Homo sapiens: one gene and its partners. The protein of the gene in region 3 interacts with the protein of the main gene of each other region in a pairwise test. Each region holds a gene or a part of one and is shown on either strand. Other genes may lie near its edges. The genes, in order: IL16, CDPF1, KCTD9 and PRDM6.

The links.
Region 1: the proteins of KCTD9 (region 3) and IL16 interact in binary tests that used the Homo sapiens proteins (3 or more experiments, as listed by UniProt).
Region 2: the proteins of KCTD9 (region 3) and CDPF1 interact in binary tests that used the Homo sapiens proteins (3 or more experiments, as listed by UniProt).
Region 4: the proteins of KCTD9 (region 3) and PRDM6 interact in binary tests that used the Homo sapiens proteins (3 or more experiments, as listed by UniProt).

What each region holds. Positions count from the first base shown.
Region 1 is NC_000015.10:81,192,155-81,199,899, forward strand, and holds the start of IL16 (pro-interleukin-16), read left to right. Parts: upstream 1-4,724; 5' UTR 4,725-4,998; intron 4,999-7,321; exon of another isoform or gene 7,322-7,656; coding exon of another isoform or gene 7,657-7,708; intron 7,709-7,745. UniProt on the Homo sapiens protein: Interleukin-16 stimulates a migratory response in CD4+ lymphocytes, monocytes, and eosinophils. Primes CD4+ T-cells for IL-2 and IL-15 responsiveness. Also induces T-lymphocyte expression of interleukin 2 receptor. Ligand for CD4.
Region 2 is NC_000022.11:46,243,499-46,247,310, forward strand, and holds the end of CDPF1 (cysteine-rich DPF motif domain-containing protein 1), read right to left. Parts: intron 3,724-3,812; coding exon 3,612-3,723; coding exon of another isoform or gene 3,608-3,611; intron 3,298-3,607; coding exon of another isoform or gene 3,179-3,297; exon of another isoform or gene 3,175-3,178; intron 1,741-3,174; coding exon 1,594-1,740; coding exon of another isoform or gene 1,316-1,593; 3' UTR 515-1,315; downstream 1-514.
Region 3 is NC_000008.11:25,448,430-25,455,460, forward strand, and holds part of KCTD9 (BTB/POZ domain-containing protein KCTD9), read right to left. Parts: intron 5,147-7,031; exon of another isoform or gene 5,115-5,146; intron 2,053-5,114; exon of another isoform or gene 1,951-2,052; intron 1,242-1,950; exon of another isoform or gene 1,094-1,241; intron 1-1,093. UniProt on the Homo sapiens protein: Substrate-specific adapter of a BCR (BTB-CUL3-RBX1) E3 ubiquitin-protein ligase complex, which mediates the ubiquitination of target proteins, leading to their degradation by the proteasome.
Region 4 is NC_000005.10:123,084,603-123,092,240, reverse strand, and holds the start of PRDM6 (putative histone-lysine N-methyltransferase PRDM6), read right to left. Parts: upstream 3,001-7,638; 5' UTR 2,722-3,000; intron 2,242-2,721; 5' UTR 2,227-2,241; coding exon 1,635-2,226; intron 1-1,634. UniProt on the Homo sapiens protein: Putative histone methyltransferase that acts as a transcriptional repressor of smooth muscle gene expression.

The DNA of each region.
Region 1 (7,745 bases), on a different chromosome or scaffold from region 3:
TCAATTGTAAAAAGGTACCACGCCAATGCAAGATGTTAATAGTATGGGAAATTGTGTGTGTGGAGAGGGAGATCAGTATTCGGGAGTTCTGTACTTTCTATGCAATATTTCTGTAAAGCTAAAACTGCTCAGAACAATAAAGTTTATTAAATTTTTAAAAAAGTGGTTGGGTGCAGTGGCTCATGCCTATAATCCCAGCACTTTGGGAGGCCAAGGAAGGAGGACTGCTTGAGGCCAGGAGTTCAAGACCAGCCTGGGCAACACAGAGAGACCGTGTCTCTACAAAAAAAAAGAAAAAAGAAAAAATAGCCAAATGTGGTGGCATGTGCTTGTTGTCCTAGCTACTCGGGAGGCTGAGGCTGGAGGATTGCTTGAGCCAGGAGTTTAAGGCTGCAGTTAGCTATGATCATACCACTACCCTGCAGCCTGGGCCACAGAGCAAGATGCTGTCTCAAAAACAAACAAACAAACAAAAAACAGTTTTTAAAAGTAATTCAAAGCCCTTGCAAATTTTATGCTGATCCAATTTATATTTTCAAAAAGCCTACCTGCTATTATGTGAAAAATGGATTATGAAGGTCTGCATAGGAACCAGAATCCCAGTTAGAAGGTGAAAGCTATAATCAGACAAGAGGCACTGGTAAGAGGAGGGTGGCGGCAGTGAAGATGGAGAGAAGCGGAAAGAAAGTGGGATAGCTTCTGGGGATAGAGCCAACGAGAATCACTGATAAATTGGATGTGATGTGGAAGGTTAGAGAGATGGAGGGATCAAGATGAATAAAAACTCACAGAGGGCTTATTCTGGCAGGCACTGTTCTAAGAACCTTACAAGTATTACCATATTTAGCCCAAACAAACCTTGTGAGGTGGATGTTAGTGCACTAGCCAGCCTATAGATGACAAAACCAGTCCACAGAGAAGTGCCTTTTTGCCTGCCTATGATCATGCACTTGGGCAGGGACAGACCTGCGAGATGAACCCAGGAATTTTGGCTTCAGAGCCTGTGCTATGTTCTTCCCACCTTGATACTGAGGATTTTGGCTTGGGAAATTGATGGATGCTAGTGACAATTACCAAAATGTGGAAGTTTAGGGAAGAAACATTTTATTAGGGGGGGAATCAAGAGTACTGTTGGCAGTGTTCCTTTTTTTTGCCTCACTGAATAACAGCCAGGCAATGTTACTTTTGAAATTTAAGTTAAACCCCAGCTGAAGATGTTAAGCAAGTGGTAGGAAAAAAGAGTCAGAATTCAAGGAGAAGTCCAGGCCTGGAGAAGTGAATTTGGGAGTTGTTGGCATGTGCGTGGTATATTTGCTTGTGGACTGGCTTCAGTTGCTTGTCGTGATTGTAAGTATCTTAGTGATGGAATATTACTTTGAAAGGATGCAAGCCTGATGGACAGTTTGAAAGAAAAAAAGGCCAGAGAGAGGGCAGCATGGTCTACATGGAAGTCAGCTAGAATTTTCGTATGAAGTTAAAACCCTTGGTTTGAATCTATATGTTGCTGTGGGCCAGGGAAAGAGGGGAAGAGAGCCGGGGAGCGGGAATCAAGGGACCAATGGCTTCTGACTGCACAGCCTTGGACGTGCACTTTTTGGACATGTAACTTCTCTGAGTCTCAGTGTTTGCATCCGTAAGTGGGGACGTACAATAAAATCATCAAGTTTTGGCCTCAACATTCTGTCTAAGTTGAAAGTGCTAAATGCAGAGAGAATTTATTATCATCATGTCCATTACTGTCAGGTTACATTACTAGTAACATTACATTACTAGTTAAAATTGTTACATTACTAGTTAAAATTGTTAAATTATATTCTGCGTCATGTTACATTACTAGTTAAAATTGTTACATTACTAGTTAAAATTGTTAAATTATATTCTGCTCATGATAATACAGTTCGCATGACCAAAAGTGTACAGCATAAAGAATTCCCAAGGCATTTTATAGATTGCAGGACAGCTCTTTGCTCAGACCTCTGAGCAGCCCTGTCAGATTATTGGGTTATTGTTTCCATTTTGTGGACATGGAAACTGAGACTCAGTAAGGTAAAAGGACTTGCAGTTGACAGAGCCGCTTAGTACAGAAGCTGGGGCTTATTGCTCTGACCCTAAGCTCTTTATTTTGCCATTGTTTGAACAGAATAGGAGATGACCCTGTTGTGTCATTTTAAGGACACACTTTCTTTTTGCCTTCTGAATATGTTTACTTGCCACAACAAACATGTATTACTTTTATAACTAAAATTTTGAAATTAAAAATTTTTGTAATTTTAATTTTTTAAATTAAATTTAAATTTGTAATTGTAATTTTAATTTTTAAAAATTAAATTAGAATTTTTAAAATTAAAATTTTTTAAATTAATTTTTCAAAATTTATAATTTTAATTTTGTAATTAAAATTTTTGTAATTAAAAATTTACTTTTGGAAATAAAATTTTGTAATTAAAAAATAGGAGAATTAGAAGGAAATACAGGTTATTGATTATGAAACTTTAGCAAGCATCAGAATCACTTGTTGAACAGATTTCTCAGTTCCGTGGGCTGGAAGGGCCAAAAAGGTGAGCAGGCTTCTGCTTGGTTAGCTGTTGGCAGCATGCTTCCTCCTCTATTGCCTCATTCTCTCAGTAACACTGTGCAGTAGAAGTTTCTAATTTCATCTGGCAGACAATTAATTTCATCTAATTTTCATCGTAGCAAACTAAGGCTGTGAATGACCAAGATCACACAGGAAGCTCTTGGTTGAGCTTCAAGTGGTGCTTGAACTTCCTAGTTCTAACCAGGGCGGGGCTCTCTCACCTGCGTCTTCCTCCCCGTCTCTTCTGGCTTGCAGTGAGCTGGACTATGGAGTGTTGGGCAGGGTGGAGACTCTTTCTGCAGGATGTCCTGAAGGGCAGAGGGGTGATAAAATTTCCACCTTGAAGCACAAACCACCCCGTATTAGGAAAAATCAGGGCCAAGTCTCAACTACACTTTGGAATAAATTTACCTTCTGAGAGTGAGAAAGAACAGATCTTCGGAAAATAGAGGGAGAGGCGGGAACTGGATTCAGGTGCCGATGACAAGAGAGAGCTTAGACTTAGTGGAGGAGGGGGGCTGTGGGGCCCTCCCAGGCCTCAGGATCCAAGAAGGGCAAGGCCAGCCCCCATAGCCCTGGGGTGCTGAATTGCTCCTCAGCCTCTCTGCCAGAGCAAGATGGAAGTGGGGCCTGAGTCTGTCCTGGCCCCACCGCACCCAGGCCATTGTGAGAGAGATTGTGGGTGTGAGCTGAGCAGGCGACACTGACAGAGGCGCTCACTCTCTGCAATTTAGAAATTCCTTCACTGCACTCCAGACTCACTCCAGACTCAGCCCTACAATGTCCCCTGTGCCTGCTGACAAAGGCAGCTTTATCCCCAGAGTGCTCCCTCCTCCCGTGCTTCCCTTGGGACCGTGGGCCTGTGTTCTCCAGCAGCAGCGGCTAGATCTTTGCAGCCTTGCATGGAATTTCAAGGGCTTCCTACAGGTTGCACCTACACCCTCATTAAAGCCCCCAGGAAGCCCTGAAACATTTGGTGCTGAGCGTTGGGAAACATTCCATTCTTTAGAAGAGAGGTCCATACAAAAACCTCAGCCTAGCATGTACACAGGGCTCACAGAGACTGAGCTTAGGAGAGATGTGTGGGATGCTCTTTGCGGGGCAGATGGATTAAATGCCACCTTATGATTAGATTCTCCAAGGGGCTACGTGGGGGAAAGGCACTCTGGTCTCATGACACTAATGCCAACAGGACACACACAAAAGTGCCCCATTCTTTTATGCTGCAGTTTTCAACATGCTCTGTATACGTTAGGTCATGGGCTCTCGCACCTGAGCACGCACCAAAATCACCTGGAGGCTTTGTGAAAACAGAGTGCCAGAGGTGCTGCTTCAGGAGGTCTAGGCCAGGGCCTGAGAACTTGCATTTCTAGCAGATGCTGCTGATGCAGCTGGCTTGAGGACCACTGAGTTACATAAGCTTCTGAGAGCCAGTCTGTTGTTTTTGGGAAAGGGTGGCACAGACAAGAAATGAAATGCTATGGAAAAAGCCTGGGCTTTGGAGACAGGTGGATTTTGACTTGCTAACTTGCTAACTGTGTGACCTTGGGGAAATTCCACGGCACGTAGTAGGTGTTTAATGAACGTTTGTGCAGTGGCTTTCTTTGTCTGCAAAGCAGGTGATATATTTACCAGATTGATGGCAGGATTGTATGTGATGACTTTTTTCCTCTTTTTATTAAATTTTTATATAATTTGAGAGGAGTTCTTGCTATGGTTTGCCCGGGCTTGTCTTGAATCCCCCGGCTCAAGTGATCCTTCTGCCTCAGCCTCCTGAGTAGCTGGGATTATAGGCACGTGCCACAGCTTCCAGCATGTGATGAGGTTTATAGAAAGCTCCTAGCAGCGTGCCAGGCACATTGCAGGCACCGAGTCATGTCTGCTACCTTTCGGCTCTCCTAGTCATTTCTGTGTTGTCCAAAGAAGGCAGGGGCAACTGGGCTGGACCAAGGAACCTCACTGTGGTTCTGTGGCTCTGCACTGGGTTTGCCTCCTGGGTGTTGCCGGCCAGCCCAGCAGATGGTGGACCTTGTTCTGAGGCTGAGCTTCTCAGCACTGGCAGCCCCCCTTTTTGGATCAAGCCTTTTCACGTGGAGCAGTCAGATGGCTCAGATCAGGAGTCTTCGAGCAAATCCATGCCAGGTGGGACACATTTGTCCTGAGTCACCTGTCCAGAGCAGGTGGTGAATATTGTGTCCTACTCACGGCATCTCAACTATCGGAGCCTGGGATCTGACTCAAAGGCCGGCCTCCGTCTGAGAACTGAGCGTCCATTTCTCAATCCTTGCCGGCTCTGACCCAGGCCTGGGCCACAGGCTGTCCGGGAATAAGTGGTGCTGCAATCCCTGCTGGGCAGATGGAGAGAGGAGCAAGGGAGATGGCAGCCCCGGGGGACTGTGCATAGGGAGGTAGGTGGGCACCAGGTGAGTGAATGTCTGTCAGGCAGCTGCTCTGTCCAGGTGGCCGTTACCGGAGGGAGGAAGCTGGCCTCTCTGACCTGAATGGGGAGGGTCTTGGTTGCTAGGACGTAACTTCATATTTGGAAGTGGTGCTGGGGTCAGGGGCAGGAGCAGAAGCCAGGATTGTGTTGGTAGGAATCTCTGTGTCACCATGTCACAGTTAGGTACAGGAGGAAGCAGCTTCAGAAGGCCAGAGCGGGCAGAGGGATATCGCTTGACCTGGCTCTGCAGCACGGGGAGAATTTGGTCCTGAGATTTCTGACTTTTCAGCCTCGTCTCATCCTTGGCAATGGGGTGTGGAAGGAGGTGGAGGAAAGGAAGGCAGCAGGAGAGAGAAAGGCCACGGGGCACCTGATGGGGGCTTCTCTGCTGCCTGGCCAGACTCCTTTTCTCCAAAGTGGGCACAGCGGGTGGGCATCTCTGCAGATTGACCATGGGAAAAGTGTTCACTCTGCTTGCTTTTTGATAAGGGTCCCGTGACTAATTCCTGCATTGGTAGGTCCCAGGATTGGTGTTTTTTTGTTTTTGTTTTTTGTTTGTTTGTTTTTTTCTTTTTTGGTCCATAGCAAGTTTGCTTTCTGTAGCTGGAGAATGAGGTAACAGCATAAGAATAGAGGTTCCCTGTGGAATACAGGGAAGCATCTTCTCCTCCTGCCCTTATCAGGTGAAATCCTCCCACTTCAGGCTGAGCCATACAAAGACGACCCCTTTGTCCCAGGAGGCCAGTTCAAGCTCCCACTGGGTTCCTGGAAGCAGCCTGGGAGCTGCCGTCTCTGTGGCTCCCCTTCCTATTTCTCCAGTTTCCCCCGGAAGGAGAAGACCGTTCAGCCTTTTTCCTCCTCTGTTCTCCTTCTTTACCCTGAAGTTAAGTGATGGTCAACATTTACGAGCACAGTAGAAGGCACCTCCCCTGCTGCAGATATGACGTGGGCATGAGCCGTCAGGTGGGTCAGACCCTTGAAGCCTCTACTGCTCATTTATTCAATCCCCAGTGAGTCTTTTAAATAAAACTTAGTACCCCAACCATTTCCTGGCCACTCTTCAAGCCCCAGGCACCAAGCTAAAATATTCACATACCTCATTTAATTTAAACCTTACAACAACCTGGAGCTTAGGGAGTATATCCCCAAACCGAGAGGTGAGGAGGCTTGCACAGGACCACTCAGCTAGACGTTCCCAGGACCCAAACCCAGCTTGACTCCAAAATCCATGCTCTCACTGGCTTTGTGGCATGCCTCAATAAATACTTGAGTTTCCTCAACACAAAGATGGTCATATATCCATAGGGTTAAAAAATAATCTCTGTTGGATGCAATTGACTATAGAATTATTATTTTCTAATTGTTTGTATTCATGGAAACCTTTTTAGAATTAAAATCTATCATGAAAACTCATGTATAATCAGTTAAGGCAGAATTATTTTGGCAGAGGCAGACCAGGACCTTGAGACCTGCCCTTTTGTCAACCCCTCCCCCTTTCTGGTTCCCAGCAGTGGCCCAGGGGTATAGGAGTGAGAGGGAGGGAGGTACACTTTGAATTGAAATCTACTGGCCAGGTACAGTGGCTCACGCCTGTAATCCCAGCAATTTGAGAGGCCGAGGCGGGCGGATCACTTGAGGTCAGGAGTTCCTGACCAGGCTGGCCAACATGGTGAAACCCTGTTTCTACTAAAAATACAAAAATTAGCCAGGCGTGGAGGCACATGCCTGTAATCCCAGCTACTCAAGAGGCTGAGGCAGGAGAATTGCTTGAACCCGGGAGGCGGAGACTGCAGTGAGCCGAGATCATGCCACTGCACTCCAGCCTGGGTGACAGAGGGAGACTCCATCTCAAAAAAAAAAAATATATATATATATATATATATATATATATAAAATACATATTTTTTATTGTGCATTTGAATTGGTAATACATTTTCATATATAGGTTACGTTTTGCTATTAAAAAGCAATTCATTGTGAATAGCAATATGCTCATAAACACGGGGAGAAAATAGGCATGGGGCAAAATAAACAAATAGTTCCAAGAACTTGGAGTTGTGGTTAACTAGGAAGGCAGCTTGAAATCAGGAATTTACTTCAAGTTCTTCTTTTGAATTCCTGTTGAAATAAGGACGAATCTATGTCAGTCTTGTAAACTAGACAGTGTTGCTCAGTGTGTGCCAGAAACACTGAGAAGTCTCAGTGGATGTCTCAGGTGGATGTGAAGGACGTTGGGTGGAAGGGCGGAGCCCATCAGGAGGGAGGCGCTGTTCTTGCCACATCTGGAGATGCTGGAGGAGAGGTTTGCTTTGAGTGGGAGCAACTGGTAATGCTGGACAGTGACCCGATGCTGGGATCCCGCGTGGAGATCTCCATCGGTCTTGCCCCTGGCTGAGTCTTGGCATGTGCAGCTGGGATGGAAATGCTCCTCCAGTGGACAGTTACAGCAGCTAAGACATGGCTACCTTGCTCAGCCAATAGGAGGCGGTCACCTACAAACATCCCTTCCAAAGGTTCAAGGCTCCCCTGAGAACTTGGATGCTGGGGAATGGTGCACCTTCCCTGCTGCTCACTGCACCTCTCACCTGGCAAAGAAAAGCCACAGGAAATCTAAGCCCTTTCTGCAGTCTGGCATCGGCATATGAAAGATTCCAACGAGGAATTTCAGAACTCATCCCAGCTCCCGAATCTGAGTAAGCACAGACCTCTTGAGTAGGGCTGAGCAAATGC
Region 2 (3,812 bases), on a different chromosome or scaffold from region 3:
TTTCTAGTCACATGAACTGATTGGTTCCAGGCAATTAGAAAATGGCTATAAAATAACCTTAATTTTAAAAAAAAATCTTGGGTCTTCGTTTTCCTATTAGGAGACTGAACTGACCACATGTATTGATTTATATCCTGAATATATGGGAACTTCTGTGTTTGGGATGTCCTACTGTAAGACTGATGAATGTACAGAGTTAATTTCAGGGTACAGTTTTGCCTTAATGGTTTTAAAAAATAAACTATTTTTTAAAATTTTTTGGTGAGTTTTGAGTGATGCTGCGAGATGGACTGTTTGGTCTAAAAGAACCAAGTCCCCAGCTGTGGGGTCCGCCCTCCGCCAGAACAGTCCCTGCGCCCCTCATGGAGGCTGTCTCCACCTGCACAGTCCCTTTTGTGTCCTTCAACATACAGAATGGATCAAGGACAATCTGGCTCCGGAATACGACATCCTTTCGTCTGAAGTCACATACAACGGGAACTTTTAAAGCAGTGAGCATCTTAAAGTCCATCAGTGCACAAGTCAGTAAAAACTCTTTATTCATTCCTTCATGTGACAGTTGGCCTTGAGTAGTTACAAAGACAGAGCAGTTCCTGCCTCTCAGAATTCTAAGCAGACATTCCAGAGCTCACAGATCAGTGTCCCACCAGCTGCTACCCTGGAAGCTTCAGGGAGATGGGGAGCCTGGAGTAGGGGGGTGCTGCAGGAACCCCCGGCAGGCAGTGGGGCCAGGCTTCACAGGCACCCAGGGCTGAGTGCGAGATGGCAGGGGGCAAGCAGGCAAGCAGTGGGATGGTCTTGAGGTGTGGGGTGAGGGCAGGAAGCCCACGGTATTCCTGACTTGGAGTCGAGGGAGACAGAACGGAGGGGCCCGAGCTGAAGACAGAGTCTGAGGGAACTGGAGAGGCTAGAAGCCAGCACTCAGCTTCCCAGGAGACCCCAACTATTGCCGGGCCAAGTGTCCAGGGAGAACGTCGGGTATCCAAATGTTTCAGTGGAAGATTCCTTTTCCAAACATGAGCTGGTTCTTTGGGTTTTTAATTATAAACATAATACATGGTCAAGGTTAAAAACATTTTCCAAGCACCACATAAGGATATGAAATAAAAATTCTATCCCCCTCTAGACCTTCCAGACTGGGTCCAGAAGGAGCTGCTGTCAGTGATTTTCCTTACAGAGAGACCATTGCAGCCACCTACAGTGCACCATGGCCCCGACACAGTGTGGCATCTCCCCCCACACGCACCTGCACGCAGCCTCTTAGGAGCTGCCCTGCTGAAGGAGGTCATCCCTCTCAGTCACATCTGAGCAGCACTCACTCAGGCCTGGGCCCTGAGGGGCATGTGGGGGGACCTGGCCGGGTTCCTGGCTGTGTCTTGTCTGGCATCTGCCTTTGGACTACCCTCTTGCTACAGCTCCCTGGGCCTGTGGCTGCTCCAAGCTGGACTCCAGCTCCCCTGGGCTGCAGTGCTGCTCCCAGTGGTCCAGAAACAAGGCCAGGCATGGCGGCTCCCAGCTCAGCAGCATCCCTGGCGCAGGCTGGCCCAGGAGCTCTGTGCAGGGTGCCGCCCGATGACCTAGCCCCAGTTGCACTCACGTCCGAGAACCGGGCTGGCTGGGGGTCCTCTTTGATGGAGCTTTCCTTTTCTCCAAGTCTTGCCGAATTTCCTGAGGAAAAGCATTGATGTTCTCCCGGACACAAGGGAGGCAGAATCTCTTGGAGTAGAATAAACTGCATTCCTTAAAGAAGTGGACAAGGATGGAGGCTTGAGTATCCTGGGAACATGGTGCAGCTCCTCCCAGGGGCCAGCCCTTCCCACACTTGGGGGGCTGGGCTGGGGCCCCAGCATGCACAGTGTGGGCAGGTGGCCAGAGCTAGACCAGCAAGAGGGAGAGCCAGGCCTGAGGGCCTGGCAGGGTGTCCAGGAGAAAAGCAATGCAGGCCTGGGCTACCCTGGGTGGGAACAGCTGGGATGGGACAGAAAGACTCTGGGGCCTGCTCTGCTCCATCACGGGGCAGTGACAACAATGGAAAGCTGGAGCACAGGCCATGCCCCGAAAATCCCAGAGTCCTCCCGTCCCAGCTATCGCAGCACGAACAGTGGCCACCTGGTGCTGGGAGCGGCAGGGGACAGGAAGGACAGCCCCACAGACCAAAGACGCCATGGACGAGCCAGCTAGTCTGGGCAGGAGGCCAGAACCGTGCAGCCATGTCCGCTCTCCTCTCTCTTACACACTAGAACTCCCGAGATTCATCACGGTGCACAGCACGTGGCTAAGGATGACATTCCCCAGCCCCCTCTGTAACTGGGCATCGCCATGTGACTCAGGCTGGTTAGGGGCGTCAGCAACTGTGTGTGCCACCTCCTGGTCATGCCCTTTGAAGGCATGGACTGTGCTCTCACGTCCCTTCCCGCTGCCTGGGATGCAAATATGATGGTGGGAGCTCCACAGCCACAAGGGACCCAAATAGAGACTCTGCTGAAGACAACAGGGGTGCCCTTCCAGCCAAGGCCACCAGTTCTGGACTCTTACATAGGAGAAAGTAAGTAAATAACTATTTGCTTTACTTAGGCCACTCTTATTTTTGGTGTCTGTCTGTTCTTAAAGCTTAGTGTGCTCGCAAACATAAGGCTGCCCTCCTGCAGTTCTTAGAAAAGACCCTTCGCCATGGAGATCCGCTCACTAACAACCTACTGTTTAAACAAAGAAAGCTGCAGACTTGTGGTACCTGCGTGCGCCCCCCACCCCCGCCACCCCGCTGCTCACGAAGAGCAGCCCAAGGCCAAGGTGTTGCATTCAAGACCTCCACCTCCCCACCTGGCCCACCCACCTTTGCAGTCTTCCTTTCCCAGCTTCTCCTGGACCACCAGCTCCTCCATGAGCCTCAGATACTCCCATGCCACACTGCGGAGGCTCCTCCCACCCTGGCCCATCTCGTCCCCCTGGCTATTGATACAGCTCCCCTTTGTGTGTGTCAACCTGTGGCAGATGCTCAGGGACTTCTCAGACTCTGGGGTCACTCTGAGTACACTGGGCACGCTGTGAAAGCCATGCTGCTCCACTTCCATCCGTCCTTGGGTTTACAGCTACCCAGGTGAACCTGGCCCACCCAGCCTCTCTGAAGCTCAGTTCCCTCATCTATAAAATGGGTGGAATATAATACTGCTTTACCTGACTAAGGGGCAGGACTGAATGAAGCCTCAGCAGTAAAACAGGTCCCAAGCACAGGACCTGGCACACAACAAGTGCTCATGAAAGGACAGTCCCTTCTCCTGGAGATCCCTCCAAGAACATCTAGAAAGTAAGTCACCATCCTGGTGAGAGGGCGCACAAGGACTGTCTGCACTGTTGGTGGGAAGGGGAGGAACCCTGAGGGGCCACTGGGGTGGGTGCAGAGCCACCAATTACCTATTTCCATTCCTACACCAGGCTGAGACCCTCTAACTGACCCTAGCTTGCCCTCTCACCTCTCCCCTTCATCAGCTGAGGGGCCCCATCTATAATGGGGTGAACCCGCTGCTCCCTCTCTCCCAGCCCTCCCTACCCAGGGAGAGCTCCAGGATAACCACAGCAAGGACAGGTGGCCCCAGCCCACGCTGCTTACCCACCGGGCCCACACACACCAGCCTGCTGCACAAACTGCAGCACGAGCCGAGGACCAGGAATCTGTCCTTGTCGGAGGTGAAGGGATCCTTCATGACATAGCTTTCCTCCAGGAGGCTGCAGGAGAGTGAATGCAGCGTCAGAACAGCCCAAATCTCTGCCGTCGGAAAATCAGCCATGACCTATGGCCAGGCAGCAGCAGCCTG
Region 3 (7,031 bases):
GATGACCAAGTACTGGAAATAAACCGTGGTGATGGTTACACACATTGTGAATGTAAACAATGTCAATGAATTACACATTTAAAAAATGGTTAAAATAATAAATTTTGTTCCATCTTTTATCACAATAAAAAAAATACTGCAAAGCACTTGGCACAGTGTCCTACACACAGCAGGCTTGCCATAAATAATTAAAGCCTGAGTAGGGCTGGGCGCGGTGGCTCACGCCTGTAAAATCTGCACTATGGGAGGCTGAGGCGGATGGATTGCTTAAGCTCAGGAGTTCGAGACCAGCTTGGGCAACACAGTGAAACCCCATCTCTACTAAAATACAAAAAATTAGCCGGGCGTGGTGGCGTGTGCCTGTAGTCCCAGCTACTTGGGAGGCTGAGGCAGGAGAATTGCTTCAACCCGGGAGGCAGAGGTTGCAGTTAGCTGAGATCACACCACCACACTCCAGCCTGGGCGACAAAGTGAGACTCCTTCTCCAAGAAAAAAAAAAAGAAAAAAAAGCCTGACTAAAACATGTCCCCCATATTTCCTATGATTGTTCACCTCTGCAACACAGTGAGGTATTCTGTAATTGCATTATACACATTCCTGGGACAAAGCGAAGCGAAATACAGTACCTAGGGCATTGCACACGGCAAAGCTGGGGTTGTGTTAAGGCAAAGAGCATGAAGAGAGTAAAGACAGAGAAGAGAGAAGCAAACATGCAAAGGAGCAAGAGATTGACCAAAGCAGATGCAAAACAACTCCTGCAGTCAGAAGGTGCTGTGAAAAGAGGGTAAGAAGCACAAGCACCTCTTTCCCAATTCAATGTTCTTGGCATAGTTGCCATCATACAAAGAATTTTCTAAATCTTTCTTTTCCCTCTTATTTACCTCTGGCTCTTACATCTCAGTATGGCTTTCTTTTGCCTGATATCCCCTCCTTGCCCTAACATCAACTTTCTCTCTCAGCATCTCTTTCACTGTTCTCTCTTGGCCATACCAAAAAATAGATGCAAGTTGAATGCACCTGCCTGTATTATGCTTAATACTTAATGTAATATTATAGCTTAAGATCTTATATGACTTATTCAAAATACACTAACTTGAATTGTCGTCTACTTCCATATGATTGACTTGGTTTTTCTGTGGGTCTATTGTCTTCCGATGAAAATAAAGGCCACCTGCCATGTTTTAAAGCTGTGCTGTCCAGTGTGGAAGCCACTAGCTTCATGAGTCTATTTAAATTTTAATCTATTAAAATTAAAAGTTAAAATGCAGTTCAGTCACACTAGCCACATTTCAAGTGCTCAACTGCCACACTGGCTAATTGTTACCATATTGAATAGCACAAATTTCCATCATCTCAGTAGTTCTATTAGACAGTGCCATTTTAAAGAGCAGAAAAAAAAAAATGAAGAAAAAAAAACACAACTATTTTAATTCTATTAGGCTTTCCCATGACATAGGAACCCAAAGTAACAAACTGATGAAATACAACTCAAGACCTGTTTGTTGTTTTATTTAGAGGGTTGGGATGTTGCCATCTTCTGTTTCTTCCCCACTGAAGTCAAATGTGACCAGATGATAGAAAAAAACCACACATACTGCTTGGCAAGGACTATTTTCAAGGCAATCAAAGTACAACAGGTATTTCCTTGTAGGCTGTAAAACTACTAAGGAGCACAGTCTAGGTATAAATTGAATTCAACTTTTATTGCCACTTAAATCAATCCTAATAAGGTATCAAAAACAATTTACCGTATCACTAAATATTTTCTAATCTGGCTGTCTGCCTGGATCCTAAAGGTCCAATAAAAAAAATTAATTTGCAAAAAGTTGTTATGAATTCTGTGAATAGAGGTGACCAATTATCCCTTGGTAAAGCTGATAAGCAGCACTAAAGAAGTACATTCCTGAGCTGTTCTACTAATAACCGCCATAGGTTCAAATGGTACATTACCTGGCTTACAGCAGGTCTTTGACAAATATTTCTTGAATGTTGAGTGTTGAAGTAGGACACACCTTTTTTGTGTGACAGTCATATTCATTTAAGTCTCTTACACTGTCATTAGGGTAAAAAAATACACAGTATAAATGCAATTCTAAAGCAGTCTGGGCATGGTGGCTCAAGCCTGTAATGCCGGCACTTTTTGGGAGGCCAAGGTGGGTGGATCACCTGAGGTCAGGAGTTCAAGACCAGCCTGGCCAACATGGTAAAACCGTGCCACCACGCCCAGCTAATTTTTGTATTTTTAGTAGAGACGGGGTTTCACCATGTTGGCCAGGAGGGTGTCAATCTCTTGACCTCGTGATCCAACCGCCTCAGCCTCCCAAGTGCTGGGATTACAGGCATGAGCCACCACACCCTGCTAAGTTTTTTGCTTTATTTTGTTTGTTTTCCAAATTTGTTACAATGAACCTATATTACTTTTGTAATAAGGGGGGAAGTTTTAATTTATTTTAAGGTCTCCATAGCTCCAGATACTAGTTCTATAAATAAAATTATTTTAGCAGTTTGCAATCAGGCAGTTAACAATTTCCTTTAAGTGAAATAACCAAAGGGTGGTCAATTAGAGAAAACAGAATTAAAATTAATACGAAGAATCTTATAGTTCTAGAAATTTGAAAATTTCCCTTAAGTTGGGCCAATATACTTGTTTTCACTTGGAGGGCTATTCTTGACGTTTGTTTTCCAACTAATCATTCGCACATACTAACAATACCATACAAATAAAAAGGAGTTATGTTGCAATACTAATATTCAAATATGCAAAAACTCTGTATTTTAAACTAATTAGAAACCAGGTTTTAAAATATATATATCAACATAAATTTGTCATACATATGGAAAAGATGATTAAGTTACGGAGAAAGTTGCAAACAGACTGGCACATGCATTCTTCTTTATATAACTCTTTTGAGAAAGAGGAGCAATAAAAATCTTGTATATCATGGACATAAGCTCCAGTTAGTATATACTAAGATTGTTTTTGTCCTCATACTGAGCCAAATAAATCATAAAATGATAGTGCTTACAAAGGTCATTTACTTTGTATGTGTTATCTCCACCATGTGGCCTGATGTTTCCATGTCACTGGGATTATCTACCTTAACAACTTAGGCCCTAAGAATAGAAGCATTTTACATTTATTGAGAAGCATGTCTATTAAAGTTCATGATGTCTGTATTATACTACTTTTCAGAGTCAATTATTTTTAAATTTCAGATCCCATGACAAGTGAAAGCTGCCTATGAGTTGGAGAGTAAATGGAACACCATGCCTAGTACGATTGGCTAGTTTTAATTTACCTTTAAACACCATTTTCAAATTGTAACCTGTATTATTTAAATTTAAAAATTAAAACCTGCACATGCATGTAAAATATTTTTTTCTTTTATACCCACAAGATTTATTACATAATACACAATAAATACACAAGTATTTGTGTATTTGAATTCAACTTTTATTGCCACTTTAATCAATCCTAATAAAGTATCAAAAACAATTTACCATATCACTAAATATTTTCTAATCTGGCTGTCTGCCTGGATCCTAAAGGTCCAATAAAAAAATTAATTTGCAAAAAGTTGTTATGATAAATACACAAGTATTTATTGTGCATTATGTAATATACAATACACATAAATTGTTGAATTTATGCAGGCTGATTTACCCAACAAAACCACTAATCACCACTAGTAACTAAATACAGAACTCAATTTTCTCTACCTATACTTTTAGTCAAATACATTTTAAATATTTACATGATCTTATTCTTTAAAAGATGAGATAATTTAAAAAAAAGATGAGATAATTAACTCTAAGGTGAAAAAAGAAAATTTTAAAATGGAAAATACTGGTAATATCAAGTGTTGGAGTGGATGTGGACCAATAGGGAAGATTTATGCAATGGTGGTGGGAATATAAATTACTGCAATGACTTTGAAAAACAATCTGGCATTATTTTGCAAAACTGAATATTTACATATTCTAACACCCAATAATTACAACTATGTGTCTATACCTTAGAGTGGTGGTTCTCAAATGTGTGATCCTGTCACCTGCAGCATCTGAACCACATTTCACCTGCAAATTAAAAATGTACATTCCTACCCCACCCCAGACCTACTGAATATTAATCTTTGGGGATGAAGTCCAGCAGTTTTCTCAAGTCCTCCTCCTCCTCCAAGTGACTCTGATGCATGCTAAAGTTTGATTAACTACCTCCCTAGAAAAATGCTTGCTGCTGTGTGCCAGGATACATATACAGAAATATTCATGACAGCACTGTCAATTTAACAACAAAATATAAAGAAAATAAACAACCTAATGTCCACTGACAGGAATATCATGGTAGTATTTGTATAACATGTACTTTAATAAAGCAGTAAAAATGAATAAATTATCACTATGTCAGATATTATGGTTGGAAGAGAATTATATTGAACGAAAAAAGCAAGGACTGGCCTGGCATGATGGCTCATGCCTGTAGTCGCAGCACCTTGGGAGACTGAGGAAGGAGGACTGCTTGAGGCCAGGAGTTTGAGACCAGTCTGGGCAATATAGGAAGACATTGTCTCCACAAAAAACTATATACAGTATAATATCAATTTGAGATACCGTATGTCCCGAAGCTGATTTTTTAAAAATGTAACTTAGTGGCTAGGCAGAGTGGCTCACGCCTGTAATCCCAGTACTTTGGGCGGCTGAGGCGGGCAGATCAGGAGGTCAGCCGAGACCAGCCTGACCAACATGGTGAAACCCCATCTCTACTAAAAATACAAAAATTAGCTGGGAGTGGTGGCACGTGCCTGTAATTCCAGCTACTCAGGAGGCTGAGGCAGGAGAATCGCTTGAACCCAGGAGGCAGAGGTTGCAGTGAGCCAAGATCGCGCCACTGCACTCTAGCCTGGGTGACAGTGCGAGACTCTGTCTCAAAAAAAAAAAGGTGAGGGCCGGGCACGGTGGCTCAAGCCTGTAATTCCAGCACTTTGGGAGGCTGAGGCTGGCGGATCACGAAGTCAGGAGTTTGAGACCAGCCTGGCCAATATGGTGAAACCCTGTCTCTACTAAAAACACAAAAATAGCCAGGTATGGTGGCGGGCGCCTGTAATCCCACCTACTTGGGAGGCTGAGGCAGGAGAATTGCTTGAACCCGGGAGGCGGAGGTTGTATTGAGCCAGAGATCATGCCACTGCACTCCAACCTGGGCGACAGAGTGAGACTCCGACTCAAAAAAAAAAAAAAAAGGTAATTTAGTTATGCATATATATGTGACAAAACTATTTAAAAACACACGGCAAAGAGAAAAACAAAACAGGAGTACAGGAACGTGGATAAACACATTATGTTATTGATAACATGCTACTTCTTGGGTTATCTGGCAGATTTACAGATGTTTGCTATATTATGTTCCTCTTTTTATGTATATTCTTTATTGTATTCTTTTCTATGTATCAAATATATTAAGAAATGTTCAAGCTTAAAAAGTGGGCCCTCACTAGGTTCTTATTAATGTTTAGCCTTCAGAGGCAGAGGTTCAGATAAATTTTCACCTTTCTCCAACTCTAACAACGTAATGGATTCAAACCTGGATACTTACTACTAACAACATATTTCTTTTTCATTCTTTGTTGTTGTTGTTGTTTTAGAGATGGGATCTCACTATGTTGCCCAGGCTGGTCTTGAACTCCTGAACTCAAGCAATCCTCCCATCTCAGCCTCTCAAAGTGCTGGGATTACAGGCATGAGCCATTGTGCCTGCCCCCAACATGTTTCTGACCTAATACCAAAACCTGAAGAAAAGTTATTTCTTGGACCAAGAATGAAAACACGGTACAGAATGAAAGTATTTCCTACCCTGTTTGCCATGTTTGGCATGATGCCACATACTCAGAAGGCATTTACTAAGTGTTCACTGAATGAATGAATGAATGAATGATGAATTAATCAGTATACAAAAGGCCTAGGACTTGCACAGCTCATTATTGAATATTCTGAAGTAAAAAAAGCACTCTGTGTTCAAGACGTATAGAAACTCTGCACTGACATTAAGTTGCTCAGAAGCCACACACTGCATGCAGATGTGCAAGTCCCCATTTCAATTTCCTTAATGCCAACTCTTACAGGGAATATTAAAAAGAATAACGAAAATGTTGAGGCACATGGAAAAAGGATGACAGGTACAAACAACATAACTGACTCTTTCGGAGCAGTTTTAAAAAACAAAAACAAAAAAAACCCTCAAAATTTAAACCAAAGATTCCAGTGATTAGAACTAAGGCCTTCAAATGTTTCTGACCACACACCCCATTGGTAACATACTTTTGGGCATGTACTCAAACATCTGTATATTTATGTATTTATGAACTACATTCCACTGTTAGAAAGTACATGTTTTCCCAAATGATGAGGACTTTCAGTGACTCAGACTATGAATTAGCCACTAAGAATCTCCTAAATATTTATCATTAAATTTAGTGAAATTCTGCCAAATACAGGATTGACTTTAAACATTAAAATAAGCCGGGCATGGTGGCTCACGCCTGTAATCCTAGCACTTTGGGAAGCCAAGGCAGGTGGATCACATGAGGTCAAGAGTTCAGGATCAGCCTGGCCAACATGGTGAAAACCGTCTCTACTAAAAATACAAAAATTAGCAGGGCATGGTGGCAAGCCCCTGTAATCCCAGCTAAGCAAGAGGCTGAGTTAGGAGAATCGCTTGAACCTGGGGGGCAGAGGTTGCAGTGAGCTGAGATCACGCCACTTCACTCCAGCCTGGGTGGAAGAGCAAAACTCCGTCTCAAAAAATAATAATAATAAATAATAAATAAATAAATAAAAGTAAAAAACAAACAAAAACCAAAAAATCAGAAAAGAAAAAAATCTGAAGCCATTTGTCTTCATGCACTAGAACTTATTTCTAAATATCTTGCTAACTAGGATGACTCATCCTATCAATGGCTAATATTTCAAAGAATAACATACACTTAGGGAGAGGCTGATTATTAATAGCAATTAATAAATAGGACTTCAAATAT
Region 4 (7,638 bases), on a different chromosome or scaffold from region 3:
TTCAAAAACACACATTCAAGAAATTCAGTAGGAGATAAGTATTTTTTGAAATCTGTTGGGAGAGTATAATGTTGTAAAACTTTCTGAAACTCTGAAATACAAGTCTTCTCAACTGCACAGCAAAATTAGAGTTGAAACCACTATTTTAAGCCAGTGCTTTACTCTCAAACTTCATAAAGAAAAAAGTAAATACGATTGCTCTTTCTGTTGGTAATTATTATCTCCATCACAGCTATGTCCAACATAATGAAAATATTCATAGACCTCAACCACGAGGCAGTTGCCCAGTGTTTTTTTTTTCATCAAATCAACGACTTAGGGAATCCTTTAAAGAGCTATAACTGAACTTATTTTGCTTTTACAACGAATTAAGAAGTTCACAGAGCGGTAGACATTTTGCAAGAAGCAACTTATTCAAAATTGAATAAAAATAAATGTTTTAAATTAACTTTACTCATACAGAAGCCAGACGAAGGAATGAGATGAAGAAAATAGCTGAATGAATGCTGATCTTTCAAATCCTGTATTGCTTTCAATCTGACGCTCTTAACACACTTTAATGTTATCTCCAGAAGTCTCTGGGAGCACGTTTAACACTCCCAACACAGTATAGGTGTAAACACAGTATAACTTCTGAAATTATCAAAAAGAAGCAGGTATAAAGCAGTACATATTGCTTGATCTTCATTTAGAGTTTTGCTTCAAAACCGCCAAATGGAACTGTACTTGTGATAAGCGTTTCAAATTGTGAATATAGAAACCGAAGCTACAGGAATTCTGATGTTTAGTTAGGCATTTGCTATTAACTTGGAGGAAGAGGGGAGTAAGCGTCTTTTACTAAATTACAGTCACCCTAATTTCTAAAAATAAATACATAAACCAACATGGGTTATGAATGTTTGCGGGGTCAAAGGTGCGCGGATAAAGCGGGATCAGCGGAATCGGAGGAGAACAGAAATTTTCTTCTCAGTAAGTAGCAGTCATTTTTTTTTCTTTTCCTTCTTTTTAAATGAATAGTAGATCTAAGAATACTGCCTGCCTTCAAGGAGAAACGGACTCAGTTTCATCTAAAATTCCTACTCCAGTGAGGCCTGGCCAGCGAACAGCTCCCGCCGGTTCCCCCACAACCCCGCGGCCCGAAAATGACCCCTCCAGAGGTGGGGTGGAGAGTAGCAAAAACAAGCCCTGGTCTGCGTGCTCCCCAGAGACGCTGAGGGTCCCTCCCTCGTCCCGGCTAAGGCCAGGCAGGGCCTGACCCAGACACCCCCTGTCACACGCTGCCAGTACCCGCCTGGCCCCGGGCACTGTCCGGCGGGAGGGCAGAGGTCTGTTAGGCCGGGTCCACGGTAGACTCCGGCCCCAAACACTTGGGACTGTGAAGCAGGTGAGGAGAGGGAGGGAGAGGGAACCCCAAAGTGCCACCGGCCGTCCCATCCGTTCTCTTTCCTTCTCCAACGCCAGAAAACTTTTGTCACAGAGATCGGGGAGGCGCGGGCCAGCGGCCAGGACCAGGTGCTCCCCACCCACCCGGCCCCGTGTCACTCCTATCCGACCCGCCTCCCTGACAGGCACCCGCGCCCGCCGGCGCCGGCGCCGGCGCCCCGGGAGAGAGCGCGCGGGCTGCGGCTACGTACGGTTGTTGGGGTCGCTGGTGTGCTGGTTGAGCGGGATGATCTCCATGCGCTGCTGGCCATACAGGTAATAGTCCAGCTCCTCTGCGCTGCAGCGGAAGCGCGGGGCGCCGCGACCCTCCCCGCCGCCGCCGCCACCACCACCGCACTTGACGGGCCCGGGGCCGGAGGTGGCGCCGAGGCACAGTTCCTTGGGGGGCAGCGGCTCGGCGGCGACGGCAGCGGCGGCTAGAGGCGCGAACACCGGCAGCTGCGACACCGGCAGGGCCGAGAGACCAGCCAGCGCGGCGGCAGCGGCCGCAGCAGCGCAGGAGGAGGCGGAGGAGGCGGAGGTGGAAGAGGAAGCCGGCGTGGACGAGGCGGAGGAGAGAGAGGCGGGCCGCGGGCGCAGGCTGTCCGGCGGAGGCTCAGCGCGCTCCGGGGGCGGGGGCGGCGGCGGCGGCTGAAGAGGCTGCGGCGCGCTCAGGAGACCCGCGGCGCCGCTGCCCTTGAGCGGGCCTGCGCCTCCGTGAGGGAAGAGTTGCTGCCAGTGCTGCAGGTAGGCTGGGTCCACTTTGAGGAAGGCCGAACCGCCGGGGTCTCCGGGCTTCAGCATGTCCGGCGCCTCGAACTGGGGGCAGAGGGCAGGGAAGAGGGGGCGCGTGAGCTGGGCGAAAGGGGCCGGGAAGAGGGCCACTGGGACCCTGGAGAAAGTGCCCGAGCCGGTGGTTCAGCCGGCGGCCGCCCGGTTCCGCGGCTCCCTCTTCCCAACTCCGCTTGGGCGCAAAGTTTACTCCGAAGCTGCGGCGCCGCACAGAGGGAGCTGTGTGCACCCTGCTCTGCCTCCCCGATCGCAGCGTCCAGCTCCCATCCAGCAATGCTGGGGCCCGACAGGAGGGCGCTGCCCCGTAGAACTCGGCTGCAGGACGCAGCCCCCGCCCTCAGCCAGCGCCCGGAGCCGACCCGAGCCGGCGTGGCGCAGCGCCCGAGCCGCGTTGGCCTCAGGCGCCAGGAGGCAGAACAGTCTCGCCGCCCGCCCCCAACCTAGGACCACCAACCTTCCTATCTACCAAGCCCTAGACTCTTAAGTCCCAGACCAGCCTCACCTTACCTGAAAACTCGGTGCTGCCGGTGGGTGCGTGCGGGTGTCTCGGTGAGCGTGCGGGTGCGCGAGAGTGTGCGCCCTGCGTGCGCTACATGCCCCTGAGCAGCGCGGGAGGAGAGTCCTAGAGATTGTGCCGCCCGGAAACCTCCCGACCTGCAAGCGAGAAAATTGGGAGGCCCGCGGAGGGCGCGAGAGTGCGGACGGACCTGGGCGCCCGACTCAACCGCCGTGGGCTGCTGCGCTTGGCCGCTGCCGCGTCCTGGCTCCTTGGTTCCACGCTCTGGCAGCTTCCCGGCTGGACACGTGGGTTTTACGACAGCACAAAATAGAGTGAGTGTGTGTGTGTGTGTGTGTGTGTGTGTGTGTGTGTGTGTGTGTGTGTGTGTGTGTGTGTGTGTGAGAGAGAGAGAGAGAGAGAGAGAGAGAGAGAGAGAGAGAGAGAGAGAGAACGGAGGGGGGAGGGGAGGCAGGCCAGAAGAAGGGGAGGGGAGAGGGAAGAAGGAAGTTCTAATTCGGCCCGACCCACATCGCCAGAGCGCCTTTCCCGCACAAACTCCTCCGCCCTCCCATCCCCTGTTTTTTTGGCGTGACGTCTGCCGCTAGCCTGTTGTCTCTTTCTGCCCATGATATGTCTTTTCTGGGTCCCAGCTCAGTGCCCTGATCTTGAAAGCAGTGGAAATGCGGCAACGGGAATGCATCTCCGCACACGCTGTGGTGTCCGCGCTGGAGCAAGCCCGCGCCGCCAGGACCGGGTTTGCGCTTTTGCCCGGCTCAGTTTTTCCTGAAGTGCTTCTGGGTGCCAGAGTCCACTCGCCCGCCACGCAACCTCTAACATAAATCCTCCGGGGAGAAAAGTTGGGGGCGGAGCGGGACGGGTTGCGCGCTGCAGTGAAACCCTCTGTCTGCAGCCCAGGAGGGAGGCTTGTCGGTGCAGGGAGGCGTAGGACCGAGGGTCCTGAGACCGAGAGCAGCTGGTCCTGGAGGGACTCAAGCTTGGCCGTGGGGCTGGGAGGCGGCTGCAATGGAGTCTGCACTCCACCCAGCGCTCTGCTGACCCCTTCTCGGGTTGTCTTCTGGAGGGCTCTTTCCCTCTCCTTCTTGGGGCCCGGAGACAAGTATCCAGTGTTACGTCTGGTGGCACAACTGCTCCGGGACACGGGCGAGGCTGTTTGCGGTCAGCTGCCTGCGGCTGCCGCAGGAGGTCACGCATAGGTTTCTCTACCCAAAACCTGGTGTTAGAGGGGCAGGGTGGGAGTGCAGCCCCACCTCCACCATGTCCTCTCCCCAGACTTTGTGCCAGGGCAGCCCTTCGATGCAGTCTCGCACCCACGAAGGAGGCACTTGCCCCCCAGCTCTTCCTGGCATTTTCGGTAGTAGATGGTAGAGGGCACAGGCAGGGTGTGTGAAATTGACCGACTCAGGAGGTACTTTCCCATCGCCGGGGTTCTGGCCATACCGTAAAGAGAAGAAACGGCATTTATCTTTTTCCAAACAACCTAACTTATTTAGCACTTGCCAATCTGAGCAATTAATAGCCATTCTTTCCTGATTTCTGCTTGTTTCTTTTTCTCTTCCCACCACTCAAGTTTTCTGAACCTGGGAAACGTGCTGTTCAGACTTCATCCGGGTCTCATTCAGGATGCTTCGATGTTGGTTGGAAGAGAGTTAGACCGAAAATGTTTTGACTGGCGTCGTTATGACAAGGTCATCCGTCATTGTTGGATAGATTGATAGCACCCAAGTTTAAGGCAGACACCACGAGGGAAAGCCCACGGCGCTGTGGTCCCGGAGGCTAACCAGGCAGTGTCCGCAGACCTCCAGCAACTCCATCGGGAGGAGAGGATGAAGTTCCAGGCCCGTTTCAATTAATCTGCTCGCAGAACTGCCGAAGAGTGGCTTGTCGGGCCACGGGAGAAGAAACAAATGCTCTTTCTCACACTCTCCTGGTTCATTGCTGAGAAACCAGGACACTCCTCTGTTCCCTGGGAGAGACAGTGAACTCCAGGGATGGAAGTCCGGACTCCGGCGGCGGTCCCGTCATTTGCCTTCTTGTTTCTGCCCAAACCCAGCTAGTTCCAAGCGCTTGGTCCCCAAGACTGGAAGTCCCCAAGAACCTACCTCTACCTGTCCCAACCCTGCCTCCCCCCTACCCTTTCACCCCCTGCCACCATTAGAAAGTCTCTGGATTTTGAAATGCTAGTTGCAGCAGCTGCTTCCGTGGCCTCATGCCGCCCACACTCTGGGAAGCGGAGGAGGGAGGGTTCCTCTCGTAATAAGATTAGCTGACCTGTTAATGAGAGTTTTGGACGTGCCGGGCGGGGGTAGGCGCTTTATGTCCATTTAATCCACCTACATGCGGAGAAGGCATTATCATTAACCCCCATATTGTAGATGGGGACCGCTGAGGTTCGGAAAGTTTAGATGGGTTGCCTAAGGTCACGCCATTAATGAGTAATGGAGACGGATTCAAATACCGTTCGGTAAGGTGCCAAGTGCATCTTCTGCCTACCCTAGTCCAACCTGTAGCCACTCGGTCCAGACTGACGCCAGAGGGGCTATCATGGGAGAGATTTGGTTCCCCTCGCTGCGGGGTCCAGGGAAGAAGCTGAGAAGGTAGCAAAGTCCCCCTCGCCCACTACGTCTACAGGTGGCGTACCTGGGTAATCCGATTCAAGCTTCCGCCACACCCACCCCGGGCACAAGTCGATCCCGAGGCTTACGGGACCCTAAGGCCCAGAGGCTACAGGAACCTCCCGTGAAGGGGGCAGGAGAAAGTTTGAGGGAGAGCCCTGAAGGTCCGGGAGCGAACGAAAAAGTCTGGAAGGGAATAGACCAGGAGTCAGGACCTCCCCTGCACCTCCCCAGCAGGCCCACTGCGCCGAGCGGGGCCCCTGCCTCCACCGCGGCTTCCGGGATGCCCGCAGAGCTCGGCATCCTCACCCGGTGCGCACAAGGGCGCGCAGCGGCGTAAGCTGGACCCCCGACGCTGCGCGCGCTCTGAGGGGCGCTTCCCCCTCACACAGTTGACCCTGGGCCCGCTTGGTCACGGCCACCCTGGCGCATCTCAATAGTTTTTAGAAAGTGAGCCCACCGACGGCAAGGACATGCACCCCCTCAAATCCGCTTCCCCCACCCCCTTCAATACTGAGAAGACCACGGAAACAAATCACTTCGACCACTTAGAAAGCGATCAAACCTTTATAAAAATCCATCGCTCCCAAATCGATGGGTGAATATTTGCTGGGAATTTGTTCCAGAGGAATAAATGAGGAGCCTTGAGTGTATTAAATGCAAACGGGGGGACACGGTGGTGTTTTTCTTCATTGATTAATGACCTCTAAAATAAAACAAGTGGGAAGAGGAGCCAGGATCGATAAATTACCCAAATTCATCATTTTCTCGAGCATTTTCGCCCCGAAAATTATCCTTGGGAAGCCCATTGTACCCTGAGCTGGGAGGGGAAGGATGTAGCTGGAGGCCAGGGTAGGGAGGGAGCAGCAGAAGGGGTAGGAGGAGAGAAGGGGGTTCTGTCCAGGAGACCCTCTATCTGATTCCGTTTAACATACAATTCAAAAGTTTGCCTTTCATATTATTTTTTCTTGATGGGGGAGTGGAACAAATGGTCGGTTGCCTTTGACAGGACTCCAATAAAGGATTCAGCAGCTCTCCGCTCTGCCCTGGGTGCTCCTGCTTCTAGTAGGTTTAAGGTCACGGGTGGCTGAGTTAATAATTCATTAATATAGACATTTATTCAGAAGGGTTCGCTGAGATCCACTCTTCCTGCCTCCTCCCAGAGATTTGTTTTCCTAGGAAATGGATGGGGGTGGGGGGTGGGCTGCAGGTGAAAGGAGGGGGGCGGGAGGAGAAGGAAAGGCTGGATGTAGCTAGGAGGAATCTTTGCTGAGCCGTATTAGCAGACAGGTCCCTTGAGCCTGCCAGCAAAAACTTGGTTGAAAATGTGGTATCTAAACAGCACAGAGACTCTGGCCTGCGGTGGCCCTTTTTCCTTCCATACCTGTTCATTCGCTTGTTTAGAAAGCTCCTTTCCTCCATGGTTTGGGACCAGGGAGGAGCCTTCTCACTGAGGATCTTGGATTGCAGGCAAAAGGGAAAGCTGTGAGAAAAAAACAGGACCCCACCCCCATCCCTATGAGGTTCCCAAGGGAGGAGCTTTGAAACTTGCCCAGACTTGGAATCTAAGGGAACCTCCTCTCCTGAGGGCACAGGCAACTTTTGGAGGACACTCCACCCCTCAGAAATGGGATCATGGAGAAGGGGGTTGGAGGCGGAGACTGAAAGTAAATAGTAAGTAATAAATCAGTAATGGTTAGATGGGAATAAGTGCTATGGAAAGCAATAAAGGATAGAGGGAAAGGGAGTGCATGTAGGTGGAAGGAGTTACTGTTTTACATATAGTGGCCAGGGAAAGCTTCTGTTAGAAAGTGAAATTTAAATAGAGACTTGAAGCAAGAAGATGCCAGTTTTCTGTCCAGAGCGGGATATTCCCTGCCCTAACCTATAGCCAGTGGCTAAAGCAGTAAAAGGGGCCTCTCCTGAAGAACTGTCAAGGATTTGCCTCCTCGCTACTGGCCACACTTGCTTCCCTTAAGCTGCTGTGTACTACTCGATATTCTTTCAGTACCTCCATTGACTGTTCTCATCAATTGGAGTCGCCTAACTTGCTGGTAACTTAGACCCTGACACGGTGACCGACCTCCAACTATCTGGACCTCAATTTCTTCAACAGTCCAAAGAAGAGGCAGGACAAATGCAGTGTTCTGTCCTAAGCTTTTATGAAGCAGCTACCGAATTCTGACCTCCCCACCCTATTACATATTTTATACCCTACTCCTGCATGCTGTGAGTCTAAGATGAGCAGGGTGTAAAATGTATTGCCCAACTAAAAACTAGAAAACCCTCACC